Regions from separate parts of the Homo sapiens genome. Here region 1 is linked to region 2. Evidence: fine-mapped expression QTL. Tissue or cell type: tibial nerve. Region 2 holds a variant in brackets; the other region holds the start of a gene. All regions are shown on one strand. Distances are between the middles of the regions. Region 1 holds the start of HKDC1 (hexokinase domain containing 1). Region 2 overlaps HKDC1 (hexokinase domain containing 1).

The links.
Region 1: HKDC1 starts here. The variant in region 2 is fine-mapped to the expression of HKDC1 in tibial nerve (GTEx, PIP 0.99).

Annotation. Positions count from the first base shown.
Region 1 is chr10:69,217,837-69,223,265 of GRCh38, reverse strand. It overlaps HKDC1 (hexokinase domain containing 1), which reads right to left and starts at 2,934. Exons shown (of 18, transcript NM_025130.4): 1 at 2,768-2,934. The coding sequence starts at 2,830. LOC101928994 (a long non-coding RNA gene) reads left to right here. Exons shown (of 5, transcript NR_120648.1): 3 at 41-99; 4 at 241-389. RefSeq lists an enhancer at 4,908-5,077.
Region 2 is chr10:69,240,648-69,245,647 of GRCh38, reverse strand. It overlaps HKDC1 (hexokinase domain containing 1), which reads right to left. Exons shown (of 18, transcript NM_025130.4): 6 at 4,897-4,996; 7 at 2,283-2,466. Among named protein-coding and RNA genes, the nearest start is that of HKDC1, 23 kb to the right of the region's middle. The variant A/G (reference allele first, on the strand shown) is at 2,767.

The sequences.
Region 1 (5,429 bases), 23 kb after region 2:
ACAAGTAACATTTCCACTTTTTTGTAATGTTGACATACAGAGCCATGAAAAATACACACTGAAAACCTCCCAGTTCTCCTGTGGATGAACAATCTGCAGGTCAGTGACCAGGTCTGGCCTGGTGCTATCAATAGGTCAAATAATGTCAATATATTGAATTGGAAAAGAATCTGTCAGAGTGGTTTCTATTTTCGTTTTTTTCATTTTGTTTTATTTTTGTTTCCATGCTGGTATGGGAAGATTTTTAGAAATTGTTCCAGGGTCTCAGTAGTAACCCTTGCAGGCACCGCTGGCCCAGGATCTGGACAATTCTAGAGGCAGGAAGCACAGAGACGAAGAAGGGGACTCACTGCCTGACCGCAGAGAAACGAGCTGTGCCTTTTGACCAGGTGTGTTTCCACCACGTGTTGGGAGGAGTGTTCTCAGAACCATGACTCAGCCCAGCAGCCATAAACCAGTCTCCCACACTACCCCAGAGACTTCCTGGGGCACTTGCTTAAGGTGGCTATAAAAGTGCTTCCAACTTTCTCGCCTCCCACAGGGAGAGGGAGGTCAGCTCCCGGCATTGAAAAAGGCTGACTGTCCTTCCAGAAGGACCTGGAGCCCATCAGCAGAGGCTGCATTTCCCATCACAGGGTGCTCCTGAGCCTGCACCAGGGCTGTTGGACAAACATGTCCCGCATGATCCTAGGGTACAAAAGGTTAACCAACACAAAGGAGCCCAAGGAAATGAAATAAGTTTGCAGAATCAAAGGTTTCAGGGTTCCAAAGGCTCCCCCTTGGGGGTGGGAGAGACATGGTGCAACTTGTGCCTTTACTAAGCAGATAACAAAAGAAAGTGGATTCCTAGGCAGCGCCTCCTTAAGTAGCCAGTAGAGGGCTCTGAATCTAATCAACAAGTGATTGCTTTATAATGTTTTTAAATTTGCTACAACCTCTAACTCAACTCTCTAAATGAATAGAATTTAGTGGGAGTTTATCCCACCAAGTACCTGAGGGCTGTAAGGGGCCACACTTCCTCTCTCTCTTTCTTTGTTTTGTTTTGAGACGGAGTCTCATTCTGTTGCCCAGGCTGGAGTACAATGGCATGATCTCGGCTCACTGTAACCTCTGCTGCCCGGGTTCAAGGGATTCTCCTGCCTCAGCCTTCTGAGTAGTTGGGATTACAGGCGCACTCCACCACGCCCAGCTAATTTTTAAATTTTTAGTAGAGACGGGGTTTCACCATGTTGGCCAGGGTGGTCTCAACCTCCTGACCTCAGGTGATCCACCCACCTTGGCCTCCCAAAGTGCTGGGATTATAGGTATGAGCCACCATCCTTGGCCTTTTTTTTTCTTTTCTTTCCTTTTTTTTTCAGACAGGGTCTCACTCTGTCACCCAGGCTGGAGTGCAGTAGCGCAGTCTCCCGGGCTCAAGCCATCCTGCCACCGCAGCCTCCCGAGTAGTTGGGACTGTAGGCACACACCACCATGACCGGCTAATTTTTACATGTTTTGTAGAGATGGGGTTGCTCCATGTTGCCCAGGCTGGTCTCAAACTCCTGACCTCAAGTTTGAGATGAGATCTGCTCATCTCAGCCTCCCAGTGTATGCAGATTACAGCCGTGAGCCACGGTGCCTGGCCTCCTTATTCATTTTGTAAAGCAGGAGGGAGTCATGGCACAGCAGAAAGCATTGAAGGAAGAGTCAGCCAACTTGGATTTAATCCTCATTCCATCCTAAATACTTGGTGACCTTGGCTAAGTCCTCCTGCTAGGAGGACTTCTGTCATCTGCACTTTGAGAGATGCTTTTTGCCCAGGGCCGTGACAGCCAGCCGGTGTGGCCAGAGTAGCAGACTGGGCTCATTTTAGCTGCCTGGAAAGAACCCTGGTTCCCTCCTGTTGACCCTTGGCAACCTTTAACCAGCCCACTTTGGAATGAATTTTGTAGACAAGTTCCCTGAGCAAAGTGACAAAATAATGCACACCATGAATAGTGTACCATTGGCAAATAGCAGGTGCCAATAATAGATATTTCAATTACTGTCTATTGCAACTCACACCTTCTTGCTGCCCACATTTATATGCTTTCAAATACATGAACAAACAGATCTGCCCCAACAGTTCTTTTTTTTTAGATGAAGTCTCACTCTTGTCCCCTAGGCTGGAGTGCAATGGCGCGATCTCGGCTCACTGCAACCTCCACCACCTGGGTTCAAGCGATTCTCCTGCCTCAGCCTCCCGAGTAGATGGGATTACAGGTGCCCGCCACCACACCCAGCTAATTTTTGTATTTTTAGTTGAGACGGGGTTTCACCATGTTGGCCAGGCTGGTCTCGAACTCCTGACCTCAGGTAATCCGCCCACCTCGGCCTCCTAAAGTGCTAGGATTACAGGCGTGAGCCACTGCGCCCAGCCTTCTGCTCCAACAGTTCTTAAAACTTCTTTGAAAATGATTCTCCTCGCCTTTGTGGCCTTTCCGAGCAAACATCCCTTACAGCAAACACAATCCTCTTCAAGCTTTCCAAACACCCTCCTCACCCGCTTCCGCATCCAATACCTGCCAGGAAGTTCCGAGTGAAGTGTAAGGTTCAGGACAGTAATGCAATGCCCAGGAGTGTGGGAGAATTACTCCCTCTTCCCTCAGTGAGTCTTTTACTGGTCATATGCTCCCAGTATCTTTTCTAATAAGCTCTCTTCACTCCCTTCTGATTTTTTTTTTAAGGGAATCAGTTTTGTCCGTGAAGAAGGAGCTGGGCATCTCTCAGCTTCGTGGGTCCTCCTTACCTTCTTGATCTGGTCCTCCTTCAGCTTGCTGAAGTAAAATGCCATCAAGTGGACCGCAAACATTTTCCCCAAGTTTGGTTTCTCCTGAGATGGGCAGAGATTCCTGTGCAGTGTTCACTCCTACGACTCTGGAGTGTTGCACGCTTCCAGTCCAGGCTGGCAGACCTCCTGGGGAGCGAGGTGTTGCGGACTAAATACCTCCAGCCTGCTTGGTTCAATGATTAAACTCCCCCCCACCCCACCCCTTTGGTCCCTCCCTCTGGCACACACTTGATTGTCTAATAGGAGGCTCTGGATGGTAGCTGAGGTTTAGTGGAGGGGGAAGCAGGGTATTGATGGGTTGCTTGACTACTTGAGAATTGGGTGCCACCAAATCTCATTGCTAAGCAACCCTCTCAAGCCGGGGCTCTGCCAAGCCCACTCAGCCGAGGAAAATCTTCTGCGAAGTTGGGCACTAAACAAAGCCAACTTTCAACCGGTGGAGCTGCTCTGCAAATTTCCAGTCCCAGGCTTTTCTCTTTAGTTTTTTATGCCAGTGGCATAACTCTGTGACCCCCTGCTCCTCAGAAGCACTGAACTAACTAAAACTAAACATTGTCCTGGTCAATGGGATTTCAAGAATGTTGGGGCAGATTCTTCCATTTGTGACAGATCAGATCTCTTAACTAATAGCCCATGGTTAACAGAAAATGATCAATAAATGTTTACCTATTCACAGTGTTAAGCCAGAAAATCTTTAGTTCACAGGTAGTGACCCAGGAAAAAATATTCCTGAGAAAGAGTGAACTGAAGTCACCAGTGCTCACTGGGAATCACTGCTGGAGAGAAGGAAGTCACAGATAAGAAATGTCTCAGTCCAGCCGGGTGCAGTGACTCACGCCTGTAACAATCGCAGCACTTGGGGAGGCCGAGGCAGGCAGATCATGAGGTCAGGAGTTCGAGACCAGCCTGGCCAACATGGTGAAACCCCATCTCTACTAAAAATACAAAAAACTTAGCCAGGAGTGGTGGCAGGTGCCTGTAATCCCAGCTACTTGGGAGGCTGAGGCAGGAGAATCACTTGAACCTGGGAGGCAGAGGTTGCAGTGAGCCGAGATCGCGCCATTGCACTCCAGCCTGGGTGACAAGAGCAAAACTCCATCTCAAAAAAAGAAAAAAAAGAGAAATGTCTCAGGCCACTGAGATGTTTTATTCACTCACTTCTCACTCATCATACTTGACATGAGAAGGACCCAGAAAGCACCCAATACATGGGTACAATCAACCTTGCACTCTTCCCACAGTCACTGGCTGGCTAATGAAACCAATAACAACAGCGTTAACAACAGCGGCTAACATGGATGGAGCATTTACCAATCCCATTTTGTTTTTATTACTCTTGTTATTATTATTTTTTAGACAGGGTCTCATTCATCCCCCAGGCTGGAATGCAGTCGTGGAATCATGACTCGCTGCAACATCAGCCTTCTGGGCTCAGGTGATCCTCCCATCTCAATCCCCAGGGTAGCTGGGGCTACAGGCACGTGGCACCATGCCCAGCTAATTTTTGTATTTTTGTAGAGATAGGGTTTTGCCATGTTGCCCTGGCTGGTCTTGAATTCCTGGGCTCAAGCGATTTACCCACCTCAGCCTCCCAAAGTGTTGGAATTACAGGCATGAGCCACTGCTCCCGGCCCACTCTTATTTTATAGATGAAAAAATTGAGGCCCAGAAAGGTTACGTGATCACAAAGCCATAAACAGGACAGCAAGGGGTCAATCCTGGAAGTTTGATTCCAGGGCCCAGCTATAATACATGGCATTGGCTCTCCAGCCCTGCTTTCTCCACGCAATAGATACTCAATAGATACGCAATTGATAACTATTAGTAGCAGCATTCTGTTGGGATGTTAAGAATTTGTTTTTCTTTTTCTTTTTTTTGAGACAGAGTCTCACTCTGTTGCCCAGGCTGGAGTACAGTGGCTCAATCTCAACTCACTGCAACCTCCACCTCCTGGGTTAAAGCAATTCTCCTGCCTCAGCCTCCTGAGTAGCTGGAATTCAGTGCTCTCTACCCATTGCCGTGTGGACGAGCCATCAGGTCTCACTTAAGCCCACAATGCAGAGGAGGCTCGGTTAAAATTACTCCAGATGCTTTATTCAGATTGATATAAGCATATTAAAACTGTCTCCCAGATTGAGGATCCCCATCCTTTTCAGTCAATTTACCCTCAGACTATGACTTTTAGCTTGCTCCTTTATTACACAAGCAAACAAAGATGAACCTTTAGTTCCCCAAACCATTCAGTGCCCCAAACCAGGTGGAATTGTTGGTATTCTGAAATGCGCATCCTAGGCCCTAGCCCCCATTGGCTGAGGATAACATCCTGGGAAGGCCATCTGCCCGTAAGTGATGACATTATTTATCCTAATTCCCCCACTAGTTGATTTATTTCAGAAACAGAGTCTCACTACATCTTGTCTTGCCCAGGCTGGATTTGAACTCCATCCAGTCTTGCCCAGGCTGGATTCGAACTCCTGGGCTCAAGTGATCCTCTGGCTTCAGCCTCCTGAGTAGCTAGGACTACAGGCTTGCATCACCACACCCAGCATTTAATTCCCCCATTTAAAAAGTAACCTGGGCTGGGCGCAGTGGCTCACACCTGTAATCCCAGCACTTTGGG
Region 2 (5,000 bases):
CAACAATTCCTAATTGTTTCCCAGGCAGACTATTGAACATTATTATTATTATTATTATTATTATTATTATTATTATTGGAGACAGGATCTCGTTCTGTCACCCAGGCTAAAGTGCAGTGGTGCAATCATAGCTCACTGCAGCCTCGAACTCCTGGCCTCAAGTGATCCTCCTGCCTCAGCCTCCCATAGGGGTGCATCATCACACCTGGCTAATTTTTTTATTTTCGTAGAGACAGGATCTAATTATGTTGCCTAGGCTTATCATAAACTCCTGGCCTCCAGTGTTTCTCCTGCCCTGGCCTCCCGAAGCACTGGAATTACAGATAAGAGCCACCGCATCAGGCCTAAATATAATGCTTATTTTCCAAACACAATAAGACACAAAATCAAGAACAATCTATGTCACAATCTACTTTATATAGTTCACTATAAAAAGTCTTAGAACAGGCCAGGTACAGTGACTCATGCCTGTAATCCCAGCACTTTGGGAGGCCAAGGCGGGTGGATCACAAGGTCAAGAGTTTGAGACCAGCCTGGCCAATATGGTGAAACCCTGTCTCTACTAAAAATACAAAAAAATTAGCCGGGCATGGTGGCGCATGCCTGTAATCCCAGCTACTCAGGAGGCTGAGGCAGGGGAATTGCTTGAACCCAGAAGGCAGAGGTTGCAGTGAGCCAAGATTGCACCACTGCACTCCAGCCTTGGCGACAGAGTGAGACTCCATCTCAAAAAAAAAAGTCTTTGAGCATTGAAGAAACAGAAGACAATCAAAAGAAATTTAGGGTGGATGTCAGGGAATATAATATATATATATATTTTTTGAGACAGGGTCTTGCTCTGTTGCCCAGGCTGGAGTGCAATGGTATGATCACAGCTTACTGCACCCTGGACCTCCCTGGCTCAAGTGATCCTCCCACCTCAGTCTCCTGAGTGGTTGGAACTACAGGCATCTGCCATCACACCTGACTAATTTTTTTTTTTTAATTTTTATTTTTATAGAGACTGGTCTCACTATGTTGCCCAAGCTGGTCTCAAATTCCAGGACTAAAGCAGTCCTCCCACCTCAGCCTCCCAAAGTGCTGGGATTACACGCATGAGCCACCAGGCCTGGAAGGAATAGAATTTATTTTAAGTAAAATGGAAATGGGTGAAGATGATAAAATTCAAAAAATGGACACCACGTCCTTGGGACATGACTGCAATGGGTCACTAGAGCACAGGCATGTGCCTGGAGTAGGTGCCACCAAAGTGGAATGTGCTTCCCGGGTGCACAGTTCTAGTGTTTGAATCGCTCCTAGAAGGTGCTTGAAATTCACCAGCATGTCTTGACAAAATGGCTGATTCCAGGGCTGGGGCTAGGAAAGTGCGACATGAGCCGGGAACGTCTTACGGTGCCAGGAAATAAGGAAGTACTTAAAGAGTGATGGAACATGTCAAAAGGACACAGGAGGCAGCTTCAGAGGCTTCCTTTGGCCAAATCTGAAACAATTTGAGCATCAAAATAAAAATTGTGGACAGCAAACACAGAGGGAAGGTCCTGCCAGAGTCACCACTTGCTGAGTGATTAGGCCTCCGAGAAAGCAAGGCGGCTGGGGGACATGCGAACACGACGAGTTCGGCTGTGCCTGCCTTCTCCTCACTGCCCAGGTGTGTTCTGCGGCCAAGCGTCCGAGTGCTCTTATCTTCAGTGCCTATCATGCACATACGTAACCCACAAATACTGACTGAATTAGAATTAGGGTTATTAGGGTTATGACTTAGGGAAATCTTTCAATGTCCTTGGCTTCTATTTCCTCATTTGTCAGATGAAACTGAAATACAAGCAATGCCTTATAAATTTGTTGTAATGGGGCCATGCATGGTGGCTCATGCCTGTAATCCCAGCACTTTGGGAGGCTGAGGCGGGAGGATTGCCTGAGCTCAGGAGTGCAAAACCAGCCTAGCCAACATGGCAAAACCCTGACTCTACAAAAAATACAAAAATTAGCCAGGAATGGTGGCCCATGCCCGTAGTCCCAACTCCTCTGGAGACTGAGGTGGGAGGATTGCTTGAGCCTGGAAGGTGGAGGTTGCAGCGAGCCAAGATCGTGCCACCGCACTTCAGCCTGGGCTAGAGAGTGAGACTCCATCTCAAAAAAAAAAAAAAAGGAAAAAGAAAAAAAGAAAGAAAGTTGTGATGGATAGCTAGTCACAACTGGAAAGCCTCCCAGGTAGCCAGGGGACCTGAGTGATTAGGCACTGCCTGGTGCCGATGCCCAGATAACACCAGAAGGGAACTCACAGTTGCTTTCCTGGGTTGAGAGAGCCGAGGTCCAGCTCCCTGTCGAACTCAGTGCGAATGTCCTCCAGGGCCCCGTCGTCCCCGAAGGCCCCCCACTCTGTGTTGATGCACATCCTGCCCTCGTCGCCCTCCACCAGGTCAATGTTGCTCATGTCCTCCATGTAACACGCATTGGTGCCAGTTCCTGAACCAGGGATCAGAGAGAATATGCAGAGAGAGGACTCCCAGCTGGGCACAGACAGAGAACTCTTGACTGCTGGGGAGTCCTCCTCAATGTACCACAAAGTGCTTTTCATTCCCTGGGGGCTGGCTCTCGCTGAGGGAAGCAGCTTGGGCAAGCCCCAAGCACATGGGGAAAACAGCTGACATGTCAAGTCTGCACTTCTCAGGGTGCTCAGGGTTTGCTGTTCTGAATGGAGTCAATTGTGAAGAAGTCCGCTGATGAATATGGATGAAAGCTGACGAAGCGCTCTTACAAGAGGAC[A/G]AATGAAGATAATCTTGTAAATATTTTTTTCAAAAAATCACCAACCCAGGGTAATTTTGAAAATTCTTTCCTTAAGCTACTTAGCTTCCTCTCTATTTGATACTAAAAATATTCTTTACTTATGGCCTGCCACAAATTGTTTCTAGCATAAGCTGCATCCTTATCTTAGACTGTGATTAGCTACCACCTAAGAAAGCAACATTCCGTTATGCAAACACAAAATCGCTCCAAGGAAATGCCTCAAACACTTGAGCACTGGGGAATGACTGCAAGTGGGCACCATCTTTTTGGACTCTTTTGGGAGGACAGAAATGTTCTAAAATCGGATTGTGGTGATGGTTACAAAACTATACGTTTACTACAAATCATTGAATCGTATACCTAAAATCGGAGGACTTTTATGCCTCAATAAAGCTGTTTGAATTTTCGGGTTTTTTTTTTTTTTTTTTTTTCTTCAGTATCTTCCCTTGGCTGATACTCTGGTATGAGTATTTTAAATGCCAACATGGAAAATGAGAAATGTAGAAAAGCAGAATGTAATATTTGGAAAAAGCTTTTCTCAGAAATGCACGGACACTGTTTAGGCGTGGCCCCCCCAATCTGTGGTTACCAGACGCAGCCACAGTGACAGGCGGGTGCCATGACTGGCAAGGGCCTGAACCATTCTGAGGCTCCTGGAAACAGAAGGGTGGAGGGAGCCCCTCAGGTTTAAAAACCTGCCCTTTGGGAAAGCCAGGCTGAGGAGGGTCTTGAGGGACATTAAGAAAAAGCAATTCAGAAGAACTTTCCCCAGGAGTGGTAAAGGAATGGGAAAAGGAGAAGGGGATATTCAAGAACAACCTATAAGTCAGAGCCATTCAGCTTTACTGTACCCCAAACTGCCTTCCCACACATTCCTCCAGCTGACCCCCTCGCTCTGGTGTGGAGACCACCCACTGGAAACCCCCACTGCACCACGACCTCTCTGGTCCACAGCTGCAGTGCACCTTGCCTGACAGTCCAGTGGTCTCTTGGATGGTCACCCTGCTTCCACTCTTGTCCCCAGTAATCTATTATCCACACAGCAGCCAAAATGGGCTTTTAAAAAATGCACATCCGGCCGGGCGTGGTGGCTCATGGCTGTAATCCCAGCACTTTGGGAGACCAAGGCGGGTGAATCACTTGAGGTCAGGAGCTTGAGAGCAGCCTGGCAAACACTGTGAAACCCCATCTGTACTAAAAATACAAAAAATTGGCCAGCCGTGGTGGTGGGCACCTGTAATCCCAGCTACTCAGGAGGCTGAGGCAGGAGAATTGCTTGAGCCTGGGAGGCAGAGGTTGCAGTAAGCCAAGACTGTGCCACTGCACTCCAGCCTGGACGACAGAGCAAGACTCCGTCTCAAATAAAAAAATAAAATAAAATGCGCATCCATTTATCCATCCCCCACCCAGAGTCCCCCAGTGCCTTCCAGTCTCCCTCAGGGGATAAGCCGGTGACCTTACAGTGACTGTGTGCACATCCTGTGCAATCTGCCCAGTCTGTCCTCTGCCTCTCACTTGAATGGCCTCCGACTCTCAGCCTTCACTCACCTCATCCGGACACCACTCGGCTATAGGGTTCCCCCAGTGCCCCCTCCCTGGACCCCTTCCCATCTCCAAGCCTGTAGGTGTCCTCTTTCCTTTGGCAGGGACTCCCTACCCTCGGGCCTCCACCTTGCTCCCTGGTTTGCATCACTGAGGTCCCGGCTCAAATGCCACCCCTCAGAGAGGCTTCCCTGACGCCTCATCCCACTCACAGTCACATCACTCTCTTTGTTTTTTGTTTTTTGTTTTTTTATCACGCTAACCACCACCTGAAATTATCTTAATAGCCTAGGCCTTCTGGGCCTCTCACCCACCTCCCCACTGAAAGTTCCAGGAGCACAGGAACTCCCCACTCCAAACCCAGTGCCAAGCCCAGGGGCCGGCACACAATGGGTGCTCAGTAAACACTTGTCGAATGGATGAATGAATGAATTTTTCATGTCCCTATGTTGCTTCTCCTAAATAGTGCAGTGCCCTTCCCGCCGAATTCACTCAGAGCTCGCTGAAATGAAACTCCCAAACAGTCCCTTCTCCCCTACCCTCAAAAAACCAGTCCAATTGAGTTACCGATGATGACACCAACTTCGCAGTAGGGGTCGTCATAGGCACAGGTCATCATGGTCCCCACGGTGTCATTGACCAGGGCCAGGATGTCCACGTCCATGTCCTGC